Regions from separate parts of the Homo sapiens genome. Here region 1 is linked to region 2. Evidence: fine-mapped expression QTL. A gene starts in region 2. The other region holds a variant in brackets. All regions are shown on one strand. Distances are from middle to middle.

Evidence for each region. PIP is the estimated chance that this variant, and not a neighbour inherited with it, causes the effect.
Region 1: its variant is the best candidate, but not a certain one, in a credible set for the expression of LINC02211 in testis (GTEx, PIP 0.69).

What each region holds. Positions count from the first base shown.
Region 1 is chr5:25,148,838-25,164,767 of GRCh38, reverse strand. LINC02228 (long intergenic non-protein coding RNA 2228) reads left to right here. Exons shown (of 5, transcript NR_147006.1): 3 at 2,499-2,538. Among named protein-coding and RNA genes, the nearest start is that of LINC02228, 34 kb to the left of the region's middle. The variant C/T (reference allele first, on the strand shown) is at 7,501.
Region 2 is chr5:25,182,716-25,198,645 of GRCh38, reverse strand. It overlaps LINC02211 (long intergenic non-protein coding RNA 2211), which reads right to left and starts at 7,693. Exons shown (of 4, transcript NR_136209.1): 1 at 7,613-7,693. It overlaps LINC02228 (long intergenic non-protein coding RNA 2228), which reads left to right and starts at 7,990. Exons shown (of 5, transcript NR_147006.1): 1 at 7,990-8,199. RefSeq lists an enhancer at 7,487-7,986.

The sequences.
Region 1 (15,930 bases), 34 kb after region 2:
GAAAAGATAATTGATGTTTTGATAACTAGGTGGTTCTAGAAGGAAAAACTGGATCCATGTCTCATCTCTACATCAGCATATATTGTAAGCAGATAAATAAATGTATAAAATTTCGGTTATGAAGTTTCTATAAAAATTAGTAAATAATGAGTGAATTCTTAGAAATGCACAAGTAGTAAAATTTAATAAGTATTCAAAATTCAGCACAGTAATGGAAAATATAAATTTGATTATAATAAACATTTCATCTCAAAAACATCATAGATAAGAATGACAAATGACAAACTGAAAAATAAAATTGCAACTTCTTTGAAACAAAATGACTGTTAAATTTATAAAGGGCTTCTAAAATTAATCAGGAAAAAATCAACAATGTATCATAATAAAAGAGCAAATAGTATGAATATTGAATGCCAGAAAAAGAAATGTCAGTGGCTGTTACACATATGATAATATGTTCAACTTCAATAATAATAAGAGAAAAGCAAATAAAACTTCATTTAAATATCATTCATTATCTCTCAAGCTTTTACAAATCTAAAGTTCGAAGCTGTAGATCACAAGGACATTTATATATCACTATGGAAATGCAAACTGGCATATCACTCTTTAGGGGAGATTTGGCAATGTTCATCAAAATTGTACATTCCTTTATCCTTTGAACCAGCAAACTTATTTCAGAATACTGGGAATCTATTCAAATTTAAATTGACAAAAAATAGAAAATGACTTATGAACATTGATTTCAGCATTATTTAAAATAGCAAAAGACCAGAAACAACCTAAATGCTGTTTAGGTTGACTGGTTGGATGAATTATGTTGCTTAGGAAACTGAGTAAACAATGAAAAATCAAGAAGTATGCTGTACTGCTGGAAAATGGAATAAACTCCATAATTTACTAAGTAGTTAACTCCAAAATATATTGTTCAATGATGAATGCAATATAGATAAAAGTATATATAGTGTATATTGAGAAAAGGAAATAAATCTTGGGGCCCCAAGATCACTAAGCTAAAGGGAAAAGTCAAGCTGGAAACTGCTTAAGGCAAATCTGCCTCCCATTCTATTCAAAGTCACCCCTCTGCTCACAGAGATGAATGCATATCTGTTTGCCTCATTTAGAGAGGCTAATCAGAAACTCAAAAGAACGCAACCATTTGTCTCTTATCTACCTGTGACATGGAAGCTCCCTCTCAGCTTCCAGTTTTCCCGCCTTTGCCTCAAGTTGTTCCACCTTTCCAGACTGAACCAATGTACATCTTACACATATTAATTGATGTCTCATGTCTCCCTAAAATGTGTAAAACCAAGCTGTGCTCTGGTCACCTTGGGCACATGGCATCAGGACCTTCTGAGGTTGTGTCATGGGCGCATGTCTGGGACATTGGCGAAATAAACTTTCTAAATTAACCGAGACCTGTCTCAGATTTTGGGGGTTCACATTTTGGTAACCCCAGAGGAATTCTGAGTGGAGATGCCCCAGACCTTTGACAAATCTCCTATCAGTGCTTGGTACCAGTGTAACGCCTAAGGTTCTTGCCAAGCCATGCCAAAGAATTGATGTGGCAGCTGTCTGCGGCGAGTGATAGAGACACGGAATGATAGAAAAAAGCTGTAGGCTTTATTAGGCAGAGTGAAAGTACAAAGCTTCCACAGCGTGGAAGGGGTCCTGAATGGGTAGCCAGTGTTGGTTTTGGGTGATTGCCTTTTAAACTCTTCAAGGAGGGAAATATGTGCAGCAGGAAGATGTTACCAGAGTGAGAAACAAAGGCAGTAAATTATTTTGTGACATGTCTAAGATTTTGAGGAAAACCAGAATTGCAACTTAGGTTTTATCTACTTTATGACGTTGTAGCAGCATGGCAAAGGAGACAGGATCTTACAGGACTTTACAAAGTATGTTTACAAGGAATTGGAATGGGGAGTATAGATAAGGTCTGCTGGTCACAGAAAAAGGGGAAGTTAACATTTCTTTTCCTTTAGTTTTAGGGGATGGGGAAGGGAGAGAGAACACAGGGAAACTTATAGCAAGCTTTTAGCTGTTTATAGCTTTCTTGAGGAAGAAAACACATGCACAAGTCCTGGTGTTAGGAATATTTTAAGCATATATCTTCAATATTATTCATCCAGGACTGAAGTAAGTCCTGATGCAGGAAATGAGTAAGTTTCACAGCTTTCTGAGCCCCTACTCGACCCAGGAAGCCCAGCTGGTACCTCCTCTCACTGGTATGGCTCAAACCAGTGGGAGAATTTGCAGAGGTCTGTGAGCATCCCCTCCAGAGAATCTCTGATCTCCAAAAATTTGGTCAAGATCTAAAGTTTATTTTGCTGTACACCTCCCTTCTTTTTTGGAGTTTTACTTGCTCCCAACAAGGAAGGAGAGACTTCCTGTATCCATCACAATGAAAGGCAGGTAACTTCTTTATGGAGTTTGAGCTCCCTTTCAGCAGGGAAGATGAGTTTGAGATCTCTCTTTTTTTTTTTCCCTGCTTCTAGAATGGTAGAAAGCAGTCTTCAGCCTGAGACCCATCCCTAGGTAAGTACCTGAATTGGGGTTTTGTCTTGGCTAAAGTTTAATAACCAGCTGGTCTTAATTTCTACTTACCATTAGAGCACCCAGTGATCATATTGTGGGGTTTTTATTGTTGTTGTTTGTTCTGGATTTTCACCCATCAGATTTGACCAATTTTACCTGACTTGGTCAAATCTGTGTGAGAATTCCAAGTTCTGGGTAACAAAGCCTCTCTAATTTGGACAAAATTCCTCGCAACTGCAAAGGAGGAAAAACATGCACTTAGTTTACGAGTTTTCGTCTTGTTTTTTTAAAAAACAAAAGTTCTTTCATTTACTTTTCTTCCACCCTGTACCTCCTGCCCCCTTTGCCATCTGTAGTACCAAAAAATCTAAAGGAGTCATATAATGACTTGAACCACTTTAAAGAATTCACCTGTTTTGGGGTATTCTGTTTTCTTGGTGGAGTTTCAAGAGTCATGGGCAGCTTCTTCTTAGGTCTAAAGCTCTGTTTTCCTGTATTGCATGACTTGGCCTCTTTGGCTTTGGGGATCACAGAGATTACCTTGTACTGTGAGAGGATTTGACCTTGGCATGTGTAATGGCAGATGAGAGCTACAAAGTAGGGGTGGCTGAGCAGGAGTTTAAATAAAGTGGTCTTGGCTGTTGTCTTTTTCTCTCTCCCAGGAAGTTGTTGTCTAAGGATTCTAATTCTAGTCTGGAGATACATTCTAAGGAGACTTCTCTAACGCTTTTTCTCCCAAATTACTCTCAATTCGGCTTGTCTATGTGCATTGGTGTGAGGAGCTGAACTGCTGTTTTCAAAGCTAAATGAGAGATTGAGTTTTCTCAGCTCCAAAGAGAAAGGGCATTTGTTCCTCCCACCAAAAGGCACCCCTGGGTGACTGGGGGCCTCGTGGGAGTCTCTGGGGTTTTGAACCCCCACAGCGTGCAGCAGCCCCGCAGGGAAATCCCCAACAAAAATTAATTCAAAATAACAATAACAAAACCCCCCACTTGTCCAGGAAATGCATATAAGGGCTGATCACCTGCCATTTTGAGTCTTCTCTGAGGTCACAGACCTCTGGAGAGAGAAACTGAGACACATAAGAGTGTGGAAATGACTCAGTGTTGATACACTGTGGAGTCCTGCCCACAAGCAGCACACATTGATCCACCACACAAAAACGCTAGGCCACAGCTCAGTTCCTCCTTTTAAGAAAAAGAGTGGAAAACAATCTAAGAATGAGGAGAAAACAAGGAGAATGACCCCCTTTCAAGCACTCCATAGGTTTTATGGCACTTCCACTTGCCAGGGTTTATGTAAAATGAAAGTAATATGGTCTTTGAGTACACTTACATTAAAGTAAAAGAGCCCTGAGGTCGACCTGCAAACTACAGACTTCCTAAGTTCTCTTTTTCTCTATTTTTCTTTTCTGCCTGCTTTAAATCTGCTGTTTTCTATTAAGATAAAAACCACTATTTGGATTCAAAAGGTTATTCTTGCAAGCCAGTGAATTTGTATTTATCTCATGGCTAAAGTTATGGAGTAAAAGATTTAGGATCTGTGTGTGTGTGTGTGTGTGTGTGTGTGTGTGTGTGTGTATGTGTTCATAATTTCTGTAATTTTATGTTCAATTGGCAATTAAACCCATTTTAATTTCCCTCTAGCATATCAGAATTTTTCTCACTGTATCTTATGATGTAAATTTTGCTCTTGGATTTTCACCTGAGTTATTTTCTTTAATATGCAAATTTAAGGCTATTTAGCTAACAACTACCTATGGTAGTAAAACAGGTTATCAAGACTGAAAGTTTAACAAAAAAAAGTTTATCATGAATCTATAAGATGTATTTCTATCAGCATGCCTAATACATTTATGTATTTATGTGTTGTTTACACAACATTTCACTACTGGAAAAAAGGAACTCTAATTAATTGGCTTAAGAAAATAAAAGCACTTGAATCAAATACTTTATCAGGAAAAGGGAAAAGACTACTCAACTGCTTTTTCAAGTTAACATAACTTAAGCAAAATCTTTAATAAATAATCTAGATTTAAAATTATTGGTTAAGTAATGTTAGAAATCTCTTAAAAATTGCCAGCAGACATTGTTGTTTACATTTAATCAAGCAATTTAATACTTATTCTTGCCAAATAATATAATGTGTCAAAATTTGGCATAGGGTTTGCAAAAGTATAATCCCAGCCCAAAGCAGAATGATCTTTGCTTGTGTAATCTTTAATAAATAAGACATTGATTTATTAACAATAACATTGGTTTTATAACAATAGCTACATCTTGAATTTAGTAAGATTACCATAACTTCTAATCTTGTGGCTTTAGGCAATCTAGTCCACAGGCTGTAAGGTTTGTTTTGAGAAGGAACTGTTAGTGTCTTTGTTTCAAAGCTAAAGTATAAATTAATTTCCTCCCAAAGTTAGATCAGCCTAGGCCCAGGAATGAACAAGAACAGCCTTGAGGTTAGAAGCAAGATGGAGTCAGTTAGGTCATATCTTTTTCACTGTCTCAGTTAAAATTTCACAATGGCAGTTCTATAACTTTAAATAATGAGTATCACAGTTTTCACAAATTATGTAGGTAAATGATTAAAATAAAATAATTAGGTAAACGTAACAGGATAAATACATGTAGAAAATGTCATAATTTAGAATCTAAAGTTGTATTAAATTTAATAATAGGTATTTCATTATATGGATATTTTCCAATAAAATAATACCCTATATACTATAAAAATATATTATATATTATAAATATCCAAATTATTTTATATATTATAAAAATATATCTATAAATATATATTTAGAAAACATTATTTCTAAAAAACATGTCTTTTTTTAAAAGATGAACCATTTTTTTCTATTTCAAAGCTTATTTAAAGCTAGGTAAAAACTAGGTAAAAGAAACCAGAAAATAAGAGAGATGTAAAGAAAATTATAAAAATAGTGATTTTTTTGGTAAGAAAGGTTAAAGAGAAATAATTTTATATGAGAAACAATATTATATGGTAGATTTATTCCTAGAATAAAATGGTTGTTTAAACAAGAGGTTATGTTCAGGACAAATAAAAATTTCAAGCATGTCATGAAGGGTCTTTATAAGTCATAAGTCACAATAAGAGGATTTATTAAAAAAAAAAGAAACCAACAGTGAAATTTTCTTAAGGAATTGATTTACTCTTAATAAATCATAGGAGATTTTAATTTTTTTTACCCAAGTTTAACTTTTATTGCATCTTGCCACTTTCAGGTTTTTCTCCCCTTTTAAAAGGCGCAAAATGATAATGTTCTCCTTCAACTCATTTTCAGCTCGTATAAGTCTTTTTTCCTCAATTTCTGTTTGTTGTGGTCTGATGCTAACAATGCTTTCTTAAATGCCCAAAGGAAATGTTTTCTTCAACATAATATTCTGTTCAGTGCACATGGTTTTTATTTCTGCCTTTCAGTAACTGGCCTAAAAGATATTTCATTTTATCAAAAGCAATTCCTATGCCATTATAAAGTTTTGGTTTGCTTAGGAAAAAAAACTTTGATAAAATTTTTATCTTTAATTAAGGTTATTAAATCTGTGTGTCTTTCTACATGTGCTTTTAAAGTTTTTGTGACATTGAGTTACAGGGCTTTGACTCCTGGGTCTAAAAAGGACTCCAAGTCCTGCTAAACTGTAAATACTGAGAGCAGTTAAAGCCTCATCTTCAGACCCAGTAGAAGATGCCTATCAAAATAAACTGCATTCTTGAGACGCAGGGCCAAAAATAAAGCAATTCAACAACTCAAGATCCAGGGACTCTCACAGAAAAAGTGGGCATGTGAGATTTTAAGGGCTGATCTTGAGATTAAAATAAGTTCAGTTTCTGTATAAAGTAGTCATTAATGTCAAAGGACACTGATGCAAGACGAGCATATGGACTCTTATCTCAAATTAACAAGGTTTTCTTCAAACTGTAACTATTAGCCCTTTGTCAGATGGATAGATTGCAAAAATTTTCTTCCATTCTGTAGGTTGCCTGTTCATGCTGATGATAGTGTCTTTTGCTGTGCAGAAGCTCTTTAGTTTAATTAGATCCCATTTGTCAATTTTTGCTTTTGTTGCCATTGCTTCTGGTGTTTTAGTCATGAAGTCTTTGCCCATGTTTATGTCCCGAATGGTATTGCCTAGGTTTTCTTCTAGGGTTTTTATGGTTTTAGGTATTACATTTAAGTCTTTAATCCATCTTGAGTTACTTTTTGTATAAGGTGTAAGGAAGGGATCCAGTTTCAGTTTTCTGCATATGGCTAGCCAATTTTCCCAACACCGTTTATTCTACTATAATGGCACATGCACACGTATATTTATTGTGGCACTGTTCACAATAGCAAAGACTTGGAACCAATCCAAATGCCCATCAATGATAGACTGGATAAAGAAAATGTGGCACATATACACCATGGAATACTATGCAGCCATAGAAAGGATGAGTCAATGTGCTTTGCAAGGAAACCATCATTCTCAGCAAATTAACACAATAACAGAAAACCAAACATCACATATTCTCACTCGTAAGTGTGAGCTGAACAATGAGAAGACATGGACACAGGGAGGGGAACATCACACACCAGGGCCCGTTGGGGGGGTGTGGTTCTGGGGGAGGGATAGCATTAGGAGAAATACCTGATGTAGATGACGGGTTGATGGGTACAGGAAACCACCATGGCACATGTATACCTATGTAACAAACCTGCTTGTTCTCCACATGTACCTCAGAACTTAAAGTATAACTAAAAAAAACCAAAACACTGACTTTTTAATAAAGATTATAAAGGTTATAAAAGGTTTATGGAGGTTATACCCTATGGTCGAGATTAAAATCTTACAGATTGTTTATAAAATTTCAAAAAACAAATTTAATTGGCTTCATGCTGTTTTTATTAGGTTTCATTATTTAGAAAATTAAGTCTACTCTCTCAAAGAAAGAAAGTTTTTG[C/T]CTTTTTGAAAAAATCCTTGAGTTATTTATTTGGTCAAATGAATAACTTATTTTACAATGACCTGTGACGTCAAGTGTTTTAAATCTTTGATATTTGACAGACTTTCCAAAATTAAATAAAAAATTCTGTCTTTTACTAATGTAATTAATCCTTTAAGATATTTGTGAAATAAATTGAAACCCTTTTAGTGTTTGGCCATTATGTACAATTCTAGCTTTGGTATTAAATAATATAGCTTATTTGTTCAATAAAATTTGCATGAAAGCTGCTACATGTTAGTTACTCTTCTTGGTTTAGAAAAGATTTTCAGTATACAACACAGATATCTTAGTTTATATTTCTTTAAAAGCAGAACCTGAGACAAGAACTTAGTTGCAGATAATTTAGTAAATACTCTGAAGGAGGAGTGACAGAGAAGAGCATTAGATAAGTAAGAATGAAAAACTGATATAAGGCTATGTAATCCAGGTCACTGGTTGTAGGCAATGAGAGCATAATTCTGCTAGGAATCCAAAGGCGGAGGCTGGAGTTTTTATCCACTGACTTCCATCTTTCATTATTTGAGGGTTACCTTTGGGGTCATTAACTTTACTATATTTATAGACTGTATTTATGCAGACTATTCTCAGCTTTGGGAAAGGTCCTGAGTACAAAAAGCAGGGAAACATTTGTTTTGGTCTTTAGATAATAACAGGAGTTTGAGTTCCCCAGTAGCTATCCACTTCCATTGTGGCTGAAATTGAAAAGGGCCAATGTGATGTAATATTGAGTATCAAGTGTGAGGGCTCTCGGAGGTTGATTACGCTATTACACAGTAAATTCATTTGATTATGCTATTACACAGTAAATTCTTCTCTGTCACATATTTTGAAACTGGTGGCTAGATCTAAGCTCTGAAAATATCAAAATGTTAAAGAAATAAACCACAGTATCTGCTGTTATAAGTGGCCCAAAGGCAGAAATTGATATCCTGTTCATCTCCTTTTCTTTACTGTGTTTCCATCTCTTCCACGAACTTGGCCACTGTAGCAGCTATTCTAGATTTTCCCTCTTGTGAAATAAACCAAGCATGTTTGCTTAGTCCTAGTCTATTTTTGATGCAATAATTGCTTATTCAATCTCACTGCCAGGGACACATCAGTCGATCCCCTGAGATCTAGAGATAATGACCTGCCTTGATTCTATAGAATTATAATTAGAGAAAATTGTTCATCTTAGTATTTCAAAATAATGATGCATAATTTTGTCTTCCAATGTAGTAATTCATTCATCTTATTCAGGTCTACTGGCATAAGAAAACTAATACAAAAATTGGTCATTCCTACTTTTACTTTTTTGGTTTCTCAAACTAACTACCCTTGTATACAGTATATTTTGCATCCTAGAGACTGGCACCCACTGCAGTGTACCTTCCCTGAGCTGACATCCCTGCTGAAACTTTAGTATACCATTTCATTATCTTATTAGGCTGGGTGTTGCTGATAAATATAATATATGGTTGGAACTGAAGACCCCCATCATTCTATGCTTATTGTTTTACCTCTTCTACCATAAAAATGCATTACTTGGCCTCAAGTGATATTATGCAGGACATTACATAATTAACTTATGCTTTCAGTAATTAGGCTTTCTGTAGGCCCCCAAATCATAGTATTAGCCAAGGCATTGTGAACAAAAAATATAAATACATTTTAAAATAAGAGTTTGTTCAGCAAAGATGAATTATGACCCACTTCTAGAATTGAAAATGTCCAGTAACTGACTTATTCTAAGTGGTTGCTTGCTCTAATGTAATGAATGGAACGTTATCAAAGGCTTAATCCCAGTCTCTACTGCTTACAGGTTGGGCACATAGCTTCAGTTGTCCAGTGGACAATGTTATGCATGATCTCAGGCAAGCATTGAAGCAAAAGAAAACCAAAGATGTGCATAATTTATTTCTATTTTTCTAGGTCCATCCACATGTCCCTTCTTTGTACATCTGATCTTTCTGTCTTACTCCATCCAGGTCTATGTGCAATCAGGTCAGCCATTCACCTATATCCAAGCATTTAAACACATTGTAATTCCAATAGATTTTCTACCACATAAATGGAAATCCAAATGTGATGCTCATAGCTTGGCCCACGAGGAGGATTACCCTTTCACCAAAGTCCTTTAAGGCTAATTCTCATTATGATTGTGTGTGCTAATGGTCCATTTATCATCTAGCACTATTATATTCAATTAATCCATCCACAAACCAGGTACAAAACTTTTCCTTCTTCATTAGTTGATCAAAATGAATTCTCCATGAGGTCATGGTGTGATCAGAGGAAGGGATTACAAAGAAACAATGGCTGGTGACATGAGGGTCTAGATCATGAGTGCCTCTGGATATACTTTGAGAAGATCCAAAATGCATTATTTTATTATGGGATAGACTGATTCTTGGTGCATGATGGAAGCCTTTGTCTCATAATCTCTTGATATTCTAAGATCCAGCACTCAGTCTCTTCTAAGGTCTTGTAGCACATCAGAAGCAGCATTTCAAATAGCAAGGCATTATCTGCTGCAGAGAACATGGCCTTGATAATGAACCCCAGTGGTTTCTGCTGCAACTCTTCTACAGGGGGTTTCTCACAGGGTCTTGGCCACCATGTGTACCTCTAGCACCATACTATATCCTAAGGGGAAGGGCCATTTTCACTGTAACCTAAACCTGCTGCAAAGCCCTCTTCTTCCAAATGACCCACTTAAAAAATATTTTCTTCCAAGTAATCTAATATAGAAGTTATTATTTTGTTTTGTTTTGCTTTTTTTGTTTTTTTGTTTTGTTTTTTTTGACAGAGTCTTGCTCTGTCGCCCAGGCTGGAGTGCAGTGGCACAATCTCGGCTCACTGCAAGCTCCGCCTCCCGGGTTCACGCCAGTCTCCTGCCTCAACCTCTCAAGTAGCTGGGACTACAGGCAGCTGCCACCACACCCGTCTAATTTTTTGTATTTTTTAGTAGAGACGGGATTTCACCATGTTAGCCAGGATGGTCTCGATCTCCTGACCTCGTGATTCTCCCGCCTTGGCCTCCCAAAGTGCTGGGATTACAGGCGTGAGCCACCACGCCTGGCCCTAATATAAAAGTTTAAGCAACATTCCCAAAAGCTACAGATGCTGTTTCCAACAGCTAAATATATTTACAAAATCTTGTATCTATTTCCTAGTAGTAGGTTATGCAAAGTGTATAATATAAACTTTACCTTAGAATGGATGCCCCAGAATGCCAGAGACTGTTGGACCCTGAAGTTTTGCTCTCATCTATGTTATTGTTGTAGCTTGCTAAGACATTCAGGGCACTTGCCACTTTCTATTCACTAGGTTCAGTTAGCACAATGCCATCAATTTATTGGATTATCATAGCATTTCCCAGAATGGAAAGTTGATCAAGTCCTTTGTGGACTATACTCTGTTGGAGTGCAGAGGAATTGACATATACCTAAGACCTAGGAGAAGATGTGTGTTTGCACACTTTTCCTGTGCTCCTGCTAATACTGTCTTTCCACATACACATAAAATGTTTTTAAAAATCTACTAAGATCAAGAAGGACAAAAGAACATATTTTCCAGACTATTGCCACATATAAAGTACTAAAATTGATCTGTTCCAATAAAAATCCCAAATCTAGTATAAGAGTAAATTAGATTCACCCTTGGTTAAGTTTACAGCAGTCCACTGTCATCTACCAGCTCTTTATTTTTTTGCAGCGACCCTTACAGTTAAATTAAACAGGGGAATAAAGAGAATAACTACCACCACCAATTCTTTAATTGTTTGAAGGTAGTATGAATCTCTGTAATTTAATTCTGATATTAAATATTGTTTCTGATTTATTGCCCTGGCTAGGAAAGTGTTGGGGAAGCTTCAAGGATTTATATTTGATCATACTTAACGTGCAATACATAATGAATCCTATGATTACATATTACTACAGAAATCAGGTAACCAATGTGCAGGTTCTTTGAGTAACTAAGTCTATCCATCTCAACTGTGCACTCAGCATCTGGGGAGATAACTGTGGACTGGAATCTGATTTCAATCATGTGTCTGTTAAGTACTTGTTCTTCATGAGCACTCAATCTAATTGAAGAGGGAATTTTGGTATGCTTGTATCAATATAACCTCAGACTTCAAGTCCAACAGCTCTTAAAAGTTCTGGATAGTGTTCTTTTCTTTGTATACATTCACTATGGTACATGGCTGTAGGTTCTTAATATTTGTTATTGATACTTATACTGTCATTGTAGAGTCCTTCCTCAAGTTTGTTATGACTCCACTTCAACAGATGGGCTCTGGTTCTGAGAACCAGCTCAGACTGGGTAGGTGGGTGAGAAATTGTGGGTTTTCATCACAGTAGCTAATGCCAGTCTTCTGCTTGCTAGTTCAGGATTTATTCTAATTGCAAAACCAGAAACACCCTGATTGCCTATCCATTTCACCCCTAGGAAAATCACAGTCTGTTATATATCATAAGAGACTCTCACATAAAAGACATCCTGCTTGTCCCTCTGGCATTGCTGCTAAATTCAGTTACCATACCCACATTATTTCTAATGAATAGATGTCACCACCTAATCTGAGATATTTGAGAATAATATTGTCTCATTAGCATTTGGCAGACTAGTTTCATGGCACCTTTTCCTACTAACAACTCTGGCCAAATCATGACAACAGTCACTGAGACGTTGGATGTCCTAATCGATAGTGCATGCTAATAGCCTTTGTGAAATGAGGACAGCATCTCCAACTCATCTACTAAAAGCCATCTCAGCAGCAACATTTAAAAAATTCCTCTCCTGGTGTTCTTGTCTGAACCTTAAGTTTGGATTCACAGGAAAATGATTATCTCAGCCACAACTCCCACTTCTGGTCAAAAATTCTCAAAATTCGCTCCCACACACTTTCCCTCTTCTGCTAATATGTGTTTGCCAGGACTTACAAATCTTCAGGGAGTAATCTGACTCTAGTGATTGGTCTGGAAGTCTTAAGAGAGATAGGAACAGGGTAAGAGGAGGACAAGCATCATCTTCAGGAACTTCTGCCCAGATTAGCATTTCTAATGTCTCCAGACAATGAGTGGCTACTGTTCTCCTATAAGAAGAGGATTTTGTTTGTTTGCTTTTGTTGATCTGGATGTTTTAGGAGAACTTTAGAATTAGGGGGTTTTTGTGACCCCTTCAGAACATCCCCATTAGATGTCTAAGGGAACTACTCCTGCCTAGGAGGCCCCTGATTTTAACATAGGAGTCACGTTGAGCTTGGCATACACTTCCTTTGGCAACTCTGCAGGCCTTAAAATTAAGTTGTGTGTCTGGTTTTTAATAATCTGCCTTGTGATTGTAAAAGACGAGGGACTCTGTAAACTGTCATGGAGGGATTCTGGATTTCACTGGCAACTTTGAGATAATAGTTGGCTGACATGAATCTGCCACTTGCTTTTTTCAAGGCTTTTAAGGTAAGTTGACAAAAATTATCTAATTCTACAATATTTATAATTCCCATTGCTCTAAAATTGTTAAACTGTTAGAGTTTCTGGACAACCCAAAACTTTTCTTCCATATGTGATTCGATGGACTAAAATTTAAAGTCTTTGTAATGTTGAAATAATAGCATAACAGAAGAGGCGTCACTACTCACTTATTAACAATAATAGGAACCTGTTGTCATCTAGCCAGTAAGGTCCAGTTCCAGAATTCCATAATGATGGTCTCTTTCCTAAAACTAGTTTATTGCCACTTATTTTAGCTTGGGTTCCCGACAGTAATTTATGAGACAATGACTTGGGTGCATATCTCAGTCCCACATCACCTATTTGTTTGAATTTGGAAGGTGATCCATATAGGAATGAGGAAATAGAAAGACTGAGAAAAGGCATAATACAAAGCTAATATTAGGTTGTATCTTGGGGATTTTTTTTTTTTTTGGCTTTGGAAAGAATAGCTCAATTCTTGTAAAACTATGGAAGCATAAAGAATGACCTTAAAAATTGCCCATCCTTAGGACAAGTCCTGGACCTACATCCACTGGCTCCTATCCTCTGTTAGTTGAGGATTTCCCTGGAAAACTTAACTTTCTTATGCTTCAGTGTTGATCAAGTAGGCTCCCTAGACTTTGGAAAAGACTGTGAGATTAAAAAAAAAAAAAAAGCAAGAAATTGATGGTAAGAAGTAGAAGTAAAGTAGTGTCAAAATGATTGAGCTCACAGGAAGTTGTGCAATGTAGCTGGGGCTGATCCCAGGGCAGTCTTAGAGATGTGAGGAGATACAAAAAGTAACATTTTTGCATGGCAGTTGCAATCCAGAGAGCAATTAATTATAAGTCCATCTCTCGTTTACTAAAAGTATGTAATTTTTGTTTGAGTATTTTAGTCTTAGTTTGAATTTGATCAACATACTTTATCAAAAATATATGTACAACTAATAAGACAACTATACATTTTTCTTTTAAATGAATGCTATGGTGCATTATATCACCACAATTACTAATGACAATATGTCATAATCAAAGTGAAGACAACCTGAGAATTATGTACTAGTGTTGAGTCTATAAGAGTGTCATTGTGAAAATATTTTAAAATGATTTCTTCATTAATATAATTTTGTAACACTTATCAGCACTTTCTTGGTTTTTGTTTTATTTGTTGTTGTTTGTTTGTTTTTGTCACACTTTTAGTAACAGAACCATGGCTTTGGAAAAGGTAATGCAAAAATATCTTATTGCCTGAAATGGTAGGTGGTAAAAGTGAATATAATAAAACTCCTCAGGATATTTTCAGTGTCTTTAATCAATATACATAGCTTTCTTATTGCCTTTCAGTATATTTTGATACTATATATTTTTATTTGAAAACATTAATTTCATTTGTTTTATGAACACTATTTTTAAAGTGTGTAAGCGGCTCATTTATTTTACTTTTTTCTAGGTGTTTCTGATTTTTCTTTGCTTTCAATTATAATTAATTTAATTTCATTTATAATTAATTCTATTTGTGTTTTTATTTCACTTCATTTTGTATTACTGCATTTTTTTGTGGAGGAGACAAAAATTTAGGTTTTCAGATGGTTAGATTTTGGCATTTATTTAGCAGTTTAGTTATTGAGCATTTACTTAGTAATGGACTTTTAACATTTCATTCATTTCTAATTTTATTTTTATTCATCCATAGATTATTCTTTATGATGTAATTGTTTATAATTTTTAACTATTTTGGAAAAAATTTCATATATGTTTTCCCATTTTGGTGTATTTAGAAATTTTAGATATTATGGCTATATATTTTTTTCTGAGTGAAGATTTAGCCTTAATACATGGCTATGTAGCTAGTGATTTTAAATTGTAATGTTTTTAAATCTTAAATTTTATCTTTTAATTATTTTTAACAAAAATATTAAAATTATTTTGTGCATATGTCTGTGTGTGATGGAATTTTTTAGTTTCAAAAATAGTTATTTCTTTGTTTACTTTTAATTTTCAGATTTAGCCTCTTTGGTTCAAGGGCAAATTTCAATATTTCTAATATTCATGTGCTCTATTTATTATTTATTTATGTAAACATTTTTACAGTTATTTTTATTTATTTAAAGTGTATATATTTTTAATTGTATTCATTGATTGAAGTAAGATATGCATATAATATAAAATTTTCCATCTTTACCACTTCATGTGTATACTTCAGTGGTAACAAATACATTTATATTCTTTTTTCCCTCAATTTCCCTTTCTCCTTAGCCTTCTTAGACTCGTAACCATCATTCTACTCTCTAGCTTCATGAGGTCCACTTTTTTAGATCTGACATATGAGTGATAGTACACAATATTTGTCTTTCTATGCTTAGCTTACTTCTCTTAACATAGCATAGTGGCCTTCAATTTCATCCATTTTGTTGCAAATCATAGAATTTTATTTTTTCATGGCTAAATAATATTCCATTGTCTTTATGTACTACATTTTCTTTATCCATTCATCCATTGATGGACACTTTGGTTGATTCCCTATCTTGGCTATTGTGAATAGTGCTGCAATAAACATGGGAGTGCAGCTATCTCTTTAATATACTGATTTCTTTTCTTTTGACTATATACTCACTAGTGGAATTGCTGGATTATATGGTAGTTCTATTTTCAGTTTTTTGAAGAACATCTATATTGTTCTCCATAATGGTGGTACTAAAATACATTCGCACCAATAATGTAAGATGGTTTCCCTTTCTCCATATCCTAACCTACATCAGTTATTGTCTGTGTTTTTGATATGGTACATTTTAAGACAGGCAACATCATATCACATTGTGGTTCTGATTTAAATTTCTCTGATGATTAGTGATGTTGAGTGTTTTTTCATATACTTATATTAGGTATTAGTATGTCTTCTTTTGAAAAAAAGTCTATTCAGAAATTTA
Region 2 (15,930 bases):
AGACCAAGAACCCACCAATTCCGGACACAATATGATTTGGGAGAGGAATTAATTATTTGTATCTGTAGTTTAGATGGATTAATAACATTTCTCATCTGTAACGTTTCCAAAAATCAGTTAAAATTAATTGTGTCCTGGTCATTAGCTGTTTTTTGATGATTCTTTACAGTTTATACAATTCAAGTTAAATATATGAATTCTCTGTGCCCTTTTTGGAGCTTTTGTTTTTGGTATTTCTCTCACATTGAAATTTCTCCCTAACTGGAATATAACAATTTTTTTCTGGTATTCTCCGAGGCTATTGTTTCTACTCTTTATCAATCAAGTTCTTAATGCAAAACCCTACAAATGGTCAATAGGTATATGAAAAAATGCTCAATATCTCTAACCAGCAGGGAAATGCAAATTAAATCTACAATGAGAGAACCTCTCAAATCTGTTAGGATCACTATTATTAAAAATAGAAAGTGACAGATGTTGAAGAAAATATGGTGAAAGGGGAAACCTTGCACACTGTTGGGGGGAAGATAAATTGGTACACCCATTATGAAAAACAATAAGGGTGCTCCTCAAAATTTCAAAATTGAACTATCATATGATCCAGCAATCTCATTTCTGGGTGTATATCCATAAAAAATTAAATCAGCATTTCCAAGAAGTATCTGCACTCCTATGTTCATTTGTAGCATTATTTACAATAGCCAAGTTATGTAATCAACCAAAAGACCAACAACAAATGAATGAATAAAGAAAATGTGGGCCAGGCGCCATGGCTCATGCCTGTAATTCCAGCACTTTGGGAGGCCAAGGTAGGTGGATCACCTGAGGTCAGGAGTTTGAGACCAGCCTGGCCAACATGGCAAAACCCCGTCTCTACTAAAAATAAAAAAATTAGCCTGGTGTGGTGGCACGCGCCTGTAGTCCCAGCTACTCGGGAGGCTGAGGCAGGAGAATCACTTGAACCCGGGAGGCAAAGGTTGCAGTGAACCAAAACTGCACCACTGCACTCCAGCCTGGGTGACAGAGTGAGACTCCCTCTGAAATACATACATACATACATACATACATACATACATACATACAAAGAAAGAAAATGTAATATACATGCACAATGAAATGCTCTTCAGTCTTAAAAAAGCAAAAGAAGGAAATCCTGTCATTTGCAATAACATACATGGATCTGGGGACATTACACTAAATGAAATAAGGCAGGAACAGAAATAGAAATACTGTATGATCTCACTGATATGTGGAATCTGAAAAGTCAAACTCATAGAAGCGGAGTAGAATGGTGGTTACCTGGGGCTATAGGTGGGAAACTGGGGAGATGTTGGTCAAAGAATACAATATTTCAGTTACACAAAAGAATAAGTTCAAGAAATCTATTGTACAACATGGTGAATATAGTAAATAACAGTGTATTGTAATCTTGAAAATCATTAAGAGAGATCTTAAGTGTTGACACCACAAAAACTGTTAAGTATGTAATGTAGTGTATATGTTAATTAGTTGAATTTAATCATTTATAAGGCATACATGTTTCAAAACATCATGCTTCACATAATAAATATATATAATTTTTTCGATTAAAAATGATCACTTAAAAATCAATCAAACAAACAAATGAGACCCCAGTAAAGGCCCTAGGATGTTTTCTCCAGATAATTTGTAACCGTCTATGCTCCAGTCTCTCTCTCTCTCTCTCTCACATTCCACACATCTCACATTACTAAGGTTTGTATATTTATTTCCACTGGAGCATATCTATGTTCATCATGCTGATTTGCACAATAGAAAAAAGCTATAATAACTTATTTGATAGATATATCTGCCATATTATATCATATTCATGTATAATTATATAAAATGCATGTGAAGGGAATATTATTCCCAAAGTGTTAACTAACACTTGTTTTGGTTTCTGAATATTATTTTAATTTTATTTGGAAAATTAATTTACTCTTTTGTTTTCCAAAATTAAAACCTTTCTTAGGACATGATATGAAAAACTAACATTGCTGCTGATATAGTCTTTTTCACAAATTGTTAACCGTTTAGCATTTCTATCTGTAACTAGGAGAAGATAATTAAAAGTTGGACAAGCTTCTGCTGACAGCAACTTTCTAACTTCCTTCTCTTAGATGTGACATATCAATATGCAATAATATACTTATAAATGATAAAAATAATTTTAGAGAAACCATCCCAAATTGGAAGGGAGACAACTGTTCGTCAAAATGGAAATACATATTCTTTAGCATTTCACATACGTAAAGAAAATACAGTTCCAGTTTTCATTAATTTAAATTATTCTTTGATAGTTTATGAAAATAAAGGTTAGTGTCTGGACAAGCCTAGAGACATAACACTGAATGTTTCTAAAAAAAACCTGTACTCTAGTTGAGAAATAAAAGAGGGACAAACATAATGATTCTGTATGGCGTAACATAATGTCCTATTAGAGGCACTAACTGCCATATTTAAGGGGAAATGTGAGATCATTTCAAAGCTGTAGGATGTGAAATTTGTGATGGATTTGGAATGGTGGATAATGTATTAATAGAAAACAAAATACGAAGTGGACACGGGCAGAGGAAATAATAAAAATAACAAATAAATAGCAAAAGTGTATCAGATTAGAAAGCAGGAGCATGTTTAGGAATGAATTTTATGTTTGCATTCTAGGAAGAAGAGTGGTTTGACTTTGGATCGTGGGAGGGTGTACCAATTTATAATTCATTTTGAATGCAAGTAAAATGTCTTTCATTATTATGGAGATAAATATACAGTCATGCATCATTTTATTACTGGTTAGGCAATTTTGTCATTGTGTGAACTCCTTAGAGCGTGCTTACACAAACTTAGATGGTACAACCTACTACACACTTAGGCAAGATAGTAAAACCTATTGCTCCTAGGCTATAATCCTGTACAGCATATTACTGTACTGAACACTGTAGGTAATTGTAACACAATAATATCTGTGTATCTAAACATATAAAAATACAGTAAAAGATGCTATAAAGGATTAAAAATAGTACACCTATATATACACCTATATAATAAAAGTCTACTTTAATCTTAGGGGACCACAATTTATATTCAGTCTGATATCCACTGAAACATTGTTTTGCAGCATGTGACTGTAATACAAACAGAGGTGTAATTTTTGAAAATATAATGAACCAATGTTCACAAACTGAGTGCTACTAGATGTGGGAAAAATAATAAAAACTACAATAATGCAGGGAAGAGACAATCACTTTAAGAAATATGATGAGTAGGGTATAGATAGAAGCTTATATTAAGGGAAAAAAGAAGATTCAATTATAGTTCAGATAATGCCATCATGAGGGAATGACATAGAAACATTTGAAACTCCTTGACTGGGAAAATAGTAACATTACCTACTAAGTAGAATTGTACCTCTTTTTCTAGAATAGTGAATAAAGTACTAAAACTAAGAATAATAAATTTTAAGTAGCTTCACCTTCTAAAGATAGAAGAGGAGGAAGTATAAGACTCATCCCTGCAGGACTTACTAAGAGCAATAACAATCACTATCACAAAATACAGGTTGAGCATCCCAAATCCAAACATTCATAGTGCTCCAAATCTAAATTTTTTTTTTTTTTTTTTGAGACGGAGTCTTGGTCTGTTGCCCAGGCTGGAGTGCAGTGGCATGATCTCAGCTCACTGTAAGTTCTGCCTCCCAACTTCACGCCACTCTCCTGCCTCAGCCTCCCAAGTAGCTGGGACTACAGGGGCCTGCCACCATGCCTGGCTAATTTTTTTGTATTTTTAGTAGAGACGGGGTTTCACCGTGTTAGCTAGGATGGTCTCGATCTCCTGACATCGTGATCCACCTGCCTCGGCCTCCCAAAGTGCTGGGATTACAGGCGTGAGCCACCGCGCCTGGCCAAATCTAAACCTTTTTGAACACAAATGTCACAATCAAAGAAATGCGCACTGGAGAATTTTGGATTTTGGAAATTTGGAATAAGGATAATCAGTAAGTATAATGAAAGTATTTCAAAACAAAAACATCTGAAATTCAAAACACTGCTGACCGTAAGAATTTCATATACAGGATATTCAACTTGTAGCATATTTCTCATTTCTCTCATTTTCATATATATAAATATAGCATATATAATATATACATCTATATCTATATACTTATATCAATGTCTATTTATGTTTATATACTGCAAATATATAGAGATATATATGACACATCATATCTATATAGATATATGTATCATATGTAACATATCTATCTACATTTATATTAACATCTAAAATAGATATATAGATATAGGTTTATATATAGATAAATATAGAAAGAGATTAATATAAATAAATGTACACAATGTGTATTAAAGAGAAAGAAAAATGTCAGAAATAAAATGGAGAGAATTGTTAGTATGCCAAGAAAAGAATGTGTTCCTTCCCCTGTCTTTTCTACCATGTGGTGGCTTTGACCATCCATAAAAACCAAGTGAACTGTTTTCATGGTAATCACACCTAGGATGAATGCTGAATGTCAGCATAACCAGTTTATTTCTTTTTGATAAGATTTTTTTAAAAAGGGAATGGGGTTGGCAAGCATTACAGCATTGCAACAGAGAGTTGAAGTAGGGGAGAAACATGTACTGTCAGTATTTGGGGCAAAGCTGTGAGTCCTCCATGAGCCTTGAGTATACTTGAGTTTGTGCCACGTTGCTACAAAAGTTGATTGCTAGAGAGAGGTATTCAGCAACACGAAGCAATAGGACTGGACAACCTACCAGGGCAGCTGAGAGGCAGTTTGGAAAAGCTGTCCCAGAAGGCATCTCTCCAGTCAGGGAACTAGAAAGTATGGAAGCTTCTTTAGGATTCCTGTAGAACCCACTCATAGGAAAGATGTAAGTGACCCAATGGAAAAAGGAGGCATCTACACATTTAGCCTGTAGTTCATCCTGGAGGCCAAAACTCAAGTGGAGAAGGGGAAACCAAAAGATAATGGCAAATTGTTAGAAAAAGATTCACAACACACACACACACACACACACCTGTTTTTGTTGAGGTTCTCCAGAGGGACAGAACCAATAGAAAATATGTATATACAAAAGATGGTTTATTAGGGAGAATTGTCTCACATGATTACAAGGCAAAGTCTCACAGTAGGCCATCTGCAAGCTGAGGAAACAGAAAAGCCAGTAGTAGTGTCTCAGACCAAGTCTGAAAGCCTAAAAACTAGGGAAACTGACATTTCAGCCTTCAGTCTGCGGTGGAAGACCAGGGAGCCCTGGGGAAACCACTGGTGCTTCCCAGAGTCCAAAGGCCGAAGAACCTGGAGTCTGATGTCCAAGGTCAAGAGAAGCAGAAGCAAACATCAGGCACAGAAAGAAGAAAGAGACAGCCAGAAGACTTAGTGAAGCAAAGTGATCCCACCTCTCTCCACCTGCTTGTTCTAGCAGGGCTGGCAGATGATTGGATGCTGTCCACCCACATTGAAGTTGGGTCTTCCTCTCCCAGTCCACCAATTCAAATGTCAGTCTCCTTTGGCAACATCCTCATAAACACACCCAGAAACAATGCATTACCAGCCTTCTGGATCTCTACAATCCAATCAAGTCAACACCTAATATTATTCTTCACAAAACCCATGTGTCAAGCACATACACACACATCAGCACAAACAAACAAGGGACACTATCTAAAGTTCAACTGAGAGGGGAAAACTGAGCGTAAGTAAATGCTTCTTTTTGGCAACAAATGGAATTAGAATGTACAGGTTATCATTATGTCTCAACATTTTAAAATCTGTTCAAATTGTTAAGAGCTGGTTTATGGAGGTTGTGATGAAGGGAGATGAAACAAGACCACTTCTTCATCTTTTCTAAATGCAGACAAAACCAGCTCGCTGTGCAAACCGCAATAGTCAAGCTAGTAAGTCCACTAATGAGACTGCTGCTCATTTACCCATTACAGCTTTAGTTTATCTTTATTTCACAATGGTAATGTTGTTAGAAACCCCATCATTGCTCTTTGTAAACTTACTAGTTAACTGGTTGTGTCTCCATAGACAGTGAGAAAAAGTCTGGGTTGTATGTTATATTTCTACATCTGTCTTTGGGGTACAATTCAGTGAGAGAGCCACTGTTTTCACAATCTGGCTCCAACCACTCATGTCACCCCATCTCCATGTCTCCCCAGCCTCCTAGTTAAACTAGTGAACTCTAAATACCTCACTCATAATAATTACCCTTCACAAAGTTGGTCAGTCAAATAATGTTTGGGATAAAAAAAGTGGGTATTGTGGTAGGAGAAAAACAAGAAGCCCAAAGATTGCATGTGACAGATTGAAAAAAAATCAGTCTCTCACTTGAAAATAGTCATTTTTTTTCTGAGAATTGTTTATTGTTCAATTGCTTGGAATGTATGAAGAAATACTCCAATAATCTACTCAATGATAGAGTAAATATTAAAGTAAATATCTATATACAATTGCAAAAAAAAGCAAAACCAAATTGTGATTAGACTAGTCACATTATACCTGCACACCACAATCAAATAAAATAGGTTAGTTTTAAATCAGATACACACAGTACAAGCAACTCAGTTTTCCTAATGTTATGAACATTGGATTTCAGCAACATAGTTTGTTCTAATATTACAAAGCTGAATACTTTGATTAGTAATTTGTAAAACAAAATATGTTAATTTTTTACCTCTTGAACATATAGTTACAGAAACATGACTCATTTCTAATTTCAATTCAATATTATAATGTATCCTCTGCCAAAGATTTCCCATTTGTTTCTCAGTGGTGTAAGGTGTTCATTTTAATTTAGAAGTTGTTGAGGGCCTAATTATTTTTCTCCTTCTCTTTCTTTTATAAAGCAAAAAATATCCTCTAAATATCCTAGGCAACATAGCAAGACCTCGTCTCTACAAAAAAAAAAAAAAAAATTAGCGAGGCATGGGCACATACTGCTAGCCCCAGCTACTCAGGAGGCTGAGGTGTAAGAATTGCTTGAGCCAGGGAGGTCAAGGCTGCAGTGAACTGTGATCAGCACTGCACTCCAGCTTAGGTGATAGAGTGATACGCTGTCTCTCAAAAAAAAAAAAAAAGAAAGAAACTTTTCAAAATATGAGTTTAAAATGTCGGTATTTTAACATGTATGAAGTATAAATAGTGGCAATATGTTGGGACATTTCAAATAAACTCAGTAATATCACTTTCATATTTTAATACATGCATTCTAAATATAATCTTGTCATATAATTGTTTGCACTTATATAAATAGCATAATAAATCACGTTAGGAAACTGGAATCAAATGAAAACAAAACAAAACCTTCCAATTTTATTAGTTAGCAATAATTAATCAAAAAAAGAATAGACTCTTTAAAAGTATACCCTTATCCGTATCAAATAAAAACTACCACCTCCAAATGATTGAAGATTTTTACGGACATTAATTATAATGTATTGAAATAGTTCAGTAGTTTAAGTTGACCAGATTTATTGCACAGTTTCCACAATGGTTTAAAATTTTGCAAAGGATTAAATGCCAAAATATAAAGCCACAAAATTAGTAACATTAGTTTTATGTCACACTTACTCCAGAAGAAAATGGTCTGGTCTTAGTTCCGGTCCGGCAGAGATCGCGGAGAGACGCAGAACGCAGCCCGCGCCTTCAGGGCCCTCTGGCCCCGGGCCGGCGGATGAACTGGGGGGCCTCGGGACAGGCCGAGCCCTCTGCCCTGCAGACACCGGAGGCCTCTGCTGTGGCTGCCCACTGGCTGTGCTCAGACCTTGAAGCCGCAGCGAACCTCTCTTTCCCACCCCACCTCGGTGACTGATGGCGGCCGTGGCGTCTCCCAGCCCGGCCCCCGCCGGCACCCGGGTCTCCCGACCCAAGCCTGCTGGGCCTCGACGAAACCCCCGCAGAGCCGCCAGGACGCAGCGCCTTTGGGCGGCGCCGGGCGTGGTGGGCCGGGAAGTATGGCGGCCGCTCGAACGCCGCGCGGCGGAGGCCATTAAGGCGTGGACGGCCCGGAAGGCGGCCTAGGGACGCAAGCAGGCTTGGCCGCCTCTTTCGGCCACGGAGCCGCGCAGATCCGGTTCCCGGGTGACCACTCTGTCGCCATTGGGCGAGACCTACCTAGTCCTGACGACAACGGACAAAGGCCTTAAGGGGCCTGAAAGGTGAGCGAAGTCCCGAACAACGACGGGTGGAACGGTTAGCGGCCATCGGGCGGTTGGTCTTCATTCTACCAGACTTTGCTGTCGGAAGAGAGAAATGGTAGAATGACAGGCCACGTTTGGCCAGTTGGAAATGCCCACCACCCTCTGGGAAGATTTACTGGCCGTTTATGGAAGGCCTGTGTATATAATATGAAAAAGCTGCTCTCAACTCCACCCCAACCTTTTAATAGAAAACATTTGTCACATCTAGCCCTTCTAGATGGAAAGAGGTTGTCGAGTTATGATAAAAGAGTTAGAAAGTTACACATCTTGTAAATTCTCATTTGTTTAAAAGAAATCGTAGAAAATACATGTCTTCTGGAGATGACTTTTGGAAATGGAATTGTTAAGACGGCCTCTGGAAGCGATACGTTCACGTTTGTTAAGTGGGTTAGATGACATGGAGCTGGAAGACCTGAGAAGGAAGAGAAGAAGGTTCTATGCTAGACTGGTCATATTTAGAAGACATTTTCATATTCTATCCATTGTTTTGTGTGCATTTTATTCCTCACTACTGTGTATATAGTTGACAATGCTAAGCTTTTTTGAAATGTCTCTTCTTTTTAGATGTTCTGAAGTGCCTGATATGTTAAAATTAGAGGTAGCAAAATCACATTTTGTAAATACCTTTTTGTTACAATTCATAGGAAATATTTTTTGGGGGGAATGGTCAAATCACCTGTTGAGTAATACTCATTGTGTTTGTGCAGTGGTTCAGGGGAGGAGAGAGGAGGGGGAGGTGCAGAGAGCTCTATGCCATCCTGTTTACAGCGAGGCAAGATGTATGTCTGTGCATTTTGTTTTACTTATCTGTGTATATAATGTACATAAAGGACAGACGAGTCCTAATTGACAACATCTAGTCTTTCTGGATGTTAAAGAGGTTGCCAGTGTATGACAAAAGTAGAGTTAGTAAACTAATATATTTTGTACATTTTGTTTTACAAGTCCTAGGAAAGATTGTCTTCTGAAAATTTGATGTCTTCTGGGTTGATGGCGATGGGAAGGGTTCTAGGCCAGAATGTTCACATTTGGAAGACTCTTTCAAATTATAACTGTTGTTACATGTTTGCAGTTTATTCAAGACTGCTGTATACATAGTAGACAAATTAACTCCTTACTTGAAACATCTAGTCTATCTAGATGTTTAGAAGTGCCCGATGTATGTTAAATGTATAGGTAGTAAAATACCACTTTGTAAATATCTTTTTGCTAAAATTCATAGGAAATGCTTTTGGAAATTGAATTGTGAAGCCACCTTTGTGAGCAGTATAGTAATGTGTATACTTGTTCAATGGTTTAGAGGAGGTAGGAGGGAAGAAATTGCAAGAGGTAATATACTAGTGTGTTCATACTTGGACATTTTCAGACACCATTTTTCTATACGTTTTGTGCATTTTGTTTTGCTCTGTATATAGTATATATAATGGACAAATAGTCCTAATTTTTCAACATCTAGTCTCTAGTTGTTAAAGAGGTTGCCAGTGTATGACAAAGTAGTAAAATTAGCATATTTTGTACGCTTTGTGTTAAAATTCATAGGAAAACTTGTCTTCTGTAAAGACTTTTGCATAGGAATTTGTTCGACCATCTCTAAGCATTACATGTGCCTGTACTTGTCCACTGGATTGAAGGCAGAGAAGGAAGGGAGGAGGGAATGATTCAAGGCCAAAATGGCCACATTTAGAAGATACCTCAGATGATAACCATTGTTATGTGTGTGCAATTTTATTTAACAGTGATGTGTATGTGGTGGACAAGTTATATGAAATATCTAGTCTTTCTAGATATTTGGAAGTGCTTGATGTATTTAAAAGTGGTAGTAGAATAACACTTTGTAAGTAGCTTTTAAAAACTGATGGGAAATGCTGTTTGGAAGTGGAATTGTTGAACCACCTGGGAGGTGGGAGGGAAGAAATTGCAAATGGTGTTTTGCCATTGCAATTATTAGAAAATTTCAGCTTAAAAAAAAATGGTCTGGTCTCAAGGATAGTTGTTTGCAACTTAGCTCTTTTATAATAATGTAAAAAAAGATTTGTCTGTCTTTATTTTCAAAAGCTGACTTTATATAGATTCTAGCTTCTGACCTAAATCATTTCCTTGATATAATAAACTTTTACATGAAATAATACTTTCATTCAGTCGATTAAAATAATTTTCCTGCCAGCTAGTAGAGTGCAACATGTGTAAAAATCTTACAGTTAAATGGGATCAAATCAGACAGTATAGATTTCCTAGACCATAAAATCTATAAAAATCAGAAGCAATGGATTTAACTCCCAAATTGTTCATTTAAAGATCTAATTATTTGTGTTTGACATTAAAATAAATCTTAAACATAAGAAAGCACTTTTTTTTAGGAACAGTGTTATACTTGTTATAGTACTAAATGTAGTAATCTTCTACTGGTAGTTGGATTACTCTTTTACTCACTACATATCGATATTTAAATCACGTGCTTAATTGGTCCTATTTAGCCTTGTTTCATCTTATTAGTTACAAGGTGATATTTATCAAATGACCTAAACCATTATTCAAATTTATTTAAAAAAAACAATTGAGATGTTATAGTTTTACTACTGTAAAGTATATTAAAAGAGACATTTTCTATGTGATCTATTTGGAAATTATTTTGTTGGAAAAATCATCATGTAAGTTCCAGATAAAGAGACATTTTACTCTTCAAATTGTAAGAGTAATAACAGACAGCAACATTCTAAATTACTCTTCTATACACATTTCCTATTTGACAATTCTACAGCCATTAAATTAACTAATCATCTTCCTAGGGTGGGAATTTCATGCTTCAAATATGGGTTGATTAAAGATTAGTGTTCCTGGTGGTTGGTCACCTGATTCATCATTAGATTTGAAGAGCTGTGGCTCCTACGATAAATAAACACTGCAAAGCATTCTGAATATTTTAAATGCATGGTTTGTTTTCCTGAGCTCCCTGTGTTTGAGATTGCTCTGGATGCTTATGTGTTTTTTTCCCCTTTGCATCATCCTCATATACTTTACCTAGCACAGTTGGAAAAAATATAATCAAAACTATTTTGACTAAATTTTAATTTAAAATTAGACTTTAGAGGCATTTTTTACTTTTACTTTTGAAAGTAAATATATCTTAAAATTGTGTTTACAAGTTGGATAATCAAATATATTGCACTTTCAGGTATAAAGAAATTACTTTTCTTGAAATTAACTTGAGAAATCTTCTACATCCCCTCTTTTCTTATTAACTATTACAAAACAAAAACAAAACTTACGTAATCTTTGAAAGTCATACACTAAGGCCTTTAGGAAAGAATGTACCAAGCATAACTATTTTTTCTATTGCCATCTTTTATATAGTTATATAATTTTATAATTTTCTTAAGAAATCAGATGACAATTGAATACATTTGGGGTGTATGACTTGCCATTTTAATATATGTATAAGTTGTGAAGTGATTAGCATAATCTAATAAACACATCCATCGCCTCACATAATTACCTTTTTGTATGTGCCATGAGAACACTTCAGATCTGCTCTTAGCAAATTACAAACATGCAATATGTTATTATTAACTGTAATCGCCAGGCTGACAGTAGGTCTCCAGTAGTTATTTAGGTTGTAGCTGAAGATTTGTACCCTTTGTCCAATGTCTCCGCTTTCCCCCAAGCCCTCCATTTCCATGGTAAATGCCATTCTATTCTTCATTATTATGAGTCCAATTTCTTTTTTAAGATTCCACACATAAGTGAGATTATGCGCTATTTATCTTTCTGTGTCTGGCTCACTTCACTTGGCATAATCCCCTCGAATTTCAGCCGTGTTCTTGCAAATGGTGGGGTTTTCTTCTTTTTTATGGCTCAATAATGTTTCATGGTGGAAGTATACCAATGTTTTCTTTGTCAACTCATCTGTTGATAGATATTTACATTGTTTCTACAGCTTGGCTAATTGAATAATGCTCCCAGGGGAATTCACGTGTCTCTGCAAGATTGTGGTTTTATTTCCTTTGCATACACAGCTAGAAGTAAGATTACGGCATCAAACAGAAAATCTATTTTTAACCTTTTGAGGAATATCCATACTGTTTTCCATAATGGCGGTACCAATCTACAGTCTGCCTGTAAAAGACTTCCCTTTTCTTTCCATTCTCAGCAACATTTATCTTTTAGGTTTTGATTAGCCATTCTAGCAGGTGCAAGGTAGTATTTCATTTTGGTGTTAGTTCGCATTTCCCTGGTGATTAGTGAAGTTGAACATCATTTCATATACCTGATGGACATTTGTATGTCTTTGGGACAACGTCTATTAAGACTTTTTGCCCCTGTTTAATTTTAGATATTAAATTACTTGCTGGACATATGATTTACAAATATTTTTCCCATTCCCATTTCATAGGTTGTCTATTCATTTTGTCGATTGTTGTCTCTTATATGCAAAATGTTTTTTAGTTTGATGTAGTCCACTTGTTTAATTTTTGCTTTTATTGGCTGTGTTTTTGAGGTCAAATCTAAAATATTATTGCTGAGGCCAATGTAAAGGAGATTATCCCCTACATTTTCATCTAGCAGTATTATGTTTTCAGGTTTTATATTTAAGTCTTTAATCCATTTTAAATTAATTTTCAAGTATAGTGTAAGAGAAGCATTCAATTTCATTTTTTTTGAATGTGGATATCCAGTTTTGCCAACCTACTTATTGGACAGTCTATCATTTCCCCATTGTGTATTCCTGATTCATTTGTAAAAATTAATTATTAACCATATGTGTGTGGGTTTATTTCTGGGGTCTCCATTTTGTTCCATTTTTCTATGTGAACTTTATAGCGATACACACTAACATTAAAAAAGAGAAACATCTCAAGTATATAACCTAACATTACATCTCAAGAAACTAGAGAAAGAAGAATAAACAAAGCCCAATGTTAGTAGAAGAAAAAAAATAACAAAGATCAGAGCAGGAATAAAAAATGTAGAGTCTAGAAAAACCTAAGAAATGGAGACTAGATGGTAAATGGAATAGAGACTAGAAAAACAATAGAAAAAAATCAAATCAATAAAGAAATCGTTATTTAAAAATATAAAAAAGATTTGACAAAAGTTTAGCTAGGCTAATAAAAAAAGAGAAGTCTCAAATGAATAAAATCAGAAAATAAAGAGGAAACACTATGCCTGAATCCACATGTATTAGTCCATTTTTATGCTGCTGATAAGACTGGGAAGAAAAAGAGGTTTAATGGACTTACAGTTCCACATGGCTGTGAGGCCTCACAATCATGGTGGAAGGCAAGGAGGAGCAAGTCAGATCTAACATGGATGGCTGCAGGCAAAAAGAGAGAGATAACTTGTTCAGGGAAACTTCTCTTTATAAAACCATCAGATCTTGTGAGAGACTTACTATCTTGAGAACAGCATGGGGAAGACTTGCCTGCATGATTCAATTACCTCCCACTGGGTCCCTCACACAATACGCAGGAATTAAAGATGAGATTTGGGTGGGGACACAGCCAAACCATATCACCACAGAAATGCAGAAAATAAGAGACTACTATAAACAATTACATGTCATCAAATTGGATAACTTAAAAGAATTGAATAAGTTCCTAGAAGCATACAACCTGAATAATGAAGAAAATCTGAACAGACCAACAACAAGTAGGGAGAGTGAATCAGTAACAAAAATCCTACATCTAAGCAAAGCCTAGGACCTAATAGTTTCATGGTTAAATTCTATCAAACCTTTAAAGAAGAAAGAATGCAAATCCTTCTCAAACTCTTTAAAAGAATTTAAGAAGAGGAAATTTTTCCATACTCATTTATAAGTTCTGCATTCCCCTGATACCAAAGCCTAAGACATTAGAAGAAAATAAAATTGGAGACCAATTCCCCTGATAAACATAGGTGTAAAAATTCTCAACAAAATACTAGCAATCTGAATTTACCAGCACATTAAAAGGGTCATATCATGATTAAGTGGCATTTAATGCTGGAATGCAAAAATGGTTCAACCTATGCAAATCTATAAATGTAATCTACCTCATTGACAGAACCATATGGTCATCTAAACAGATGCAGAAAAGGCATTTGACAAAACTCAAAACACTTTTAGGATAAAGAAACCCTCAACCATAAATCATATAATGAATGTACCTCATCAAAATAAAAGCTACATATGACAAAACCTCAGGACTGTTCACAATACCCAAGATGTAGAAACAACTTAAATACCTTACCTTATATAAAATGGTAAGAAATGTGGTATATACACACATATGACAGAATATTATTCACCTTTCAGAAGAAGGAGATTTTGTAATATGGAACAACATGGATGAACCTTGAGGATGTTATGAAAAAATGTGAAATAAGCCAATCACAGAAGGACAAATACTATACAATTCCACTTATATAAATAAGTATCCAAAGTAGTCAAATTCATAGAATCAGAGAGTGGGATGTTGGTTGCCAGGGACTGGGTGGATGAAGAAATGGGGAGCTACTAATCAAAGGCATAAACTTTCAGTTAAATAAGATGAATGAATTCTAGAGAGCTGCCCTACAACACTGTACCTGTAGTCAACAGTACAGTATTGTAGACTTTAAAAATTGTTAAGTGGGTAGACCTCATGGTAAGTGTTCTTGACACAACAAAATAAAATTTAAAGAAAAGAAATGGTACCATGTTACCATTATTTGAAAATGGAGTCAGATATAAGAAAAAAAAAAAACCTCATCATTTTTTTATTTTTTTTGAAAAATATATTGGTATCATTAGATACCAAGAATGATATCTAATATCATTTTTGATATTAGACTTTGATATCATAAAAAATCATTAAAAAATCATAAAAAATGATTTTTATCATTTAAAAAAAAAATCTATTGGTATCATTCACCTGTGTTTCTAAAGACAAATACACATTATTTTATTGGAATCCTCTAAGGTATTTTATTTTCATTTTAATTTCCTGTATAGACTTTCATTAATATGCTCATTTTTTCCAACACTTCAATATATATGTCTTTAATCATTTTCAAAGTACTATTTACTTACTTCTAAATTGCCAGCTGATCTAAGATGGCATTAGATGCTACAATATTACTATACTTCTTGAACTTAACTTTTTCCAAAATTAGATAACTTGAAAATGTCAGCATCCCAGCAAGAAACAGGTGGCATATTGAAAAAGGGGATAGTTGAAGACAGTATAATGAAAGCATTCTATACTAGACATGAGAAGTTTTAAAAAAATAGAATTAAGACTAATAGAAAGGAAAATTTTATTACCCTTAAGACTGAAGGGTAAATGTAGAATGAAGTTGTCCACATTATGCTAGGGCAGAAGCTACAGCAAACAGTAAAAAATAGTCACTATGGCATAAGATTTACCAAGCAGGCACTAGCAAACCATGGCCTACCAAGGAGAGGAACCAGGGTAGCATGTACCCTACTTTTCTCTACTCCTATCTCGCCTTGGCTTAGAAAAGCCACAACGAGAGGTCAAGGCACCTCGGTGGAAGCAGTGCCTAGAAGTCAACCTTCTGAATGTCAACATCAAGGAGGTTTGAAAGTGCATCGATAGTGAAAATAATGTACAAACAATCAAACAAATAAATAGTAATAGCTATATGAATCACTCAGAATAAAAGATATAGGCACTTTGGGAGGCCGAGGCAGGTGGGTCACGAGGTCAGGAG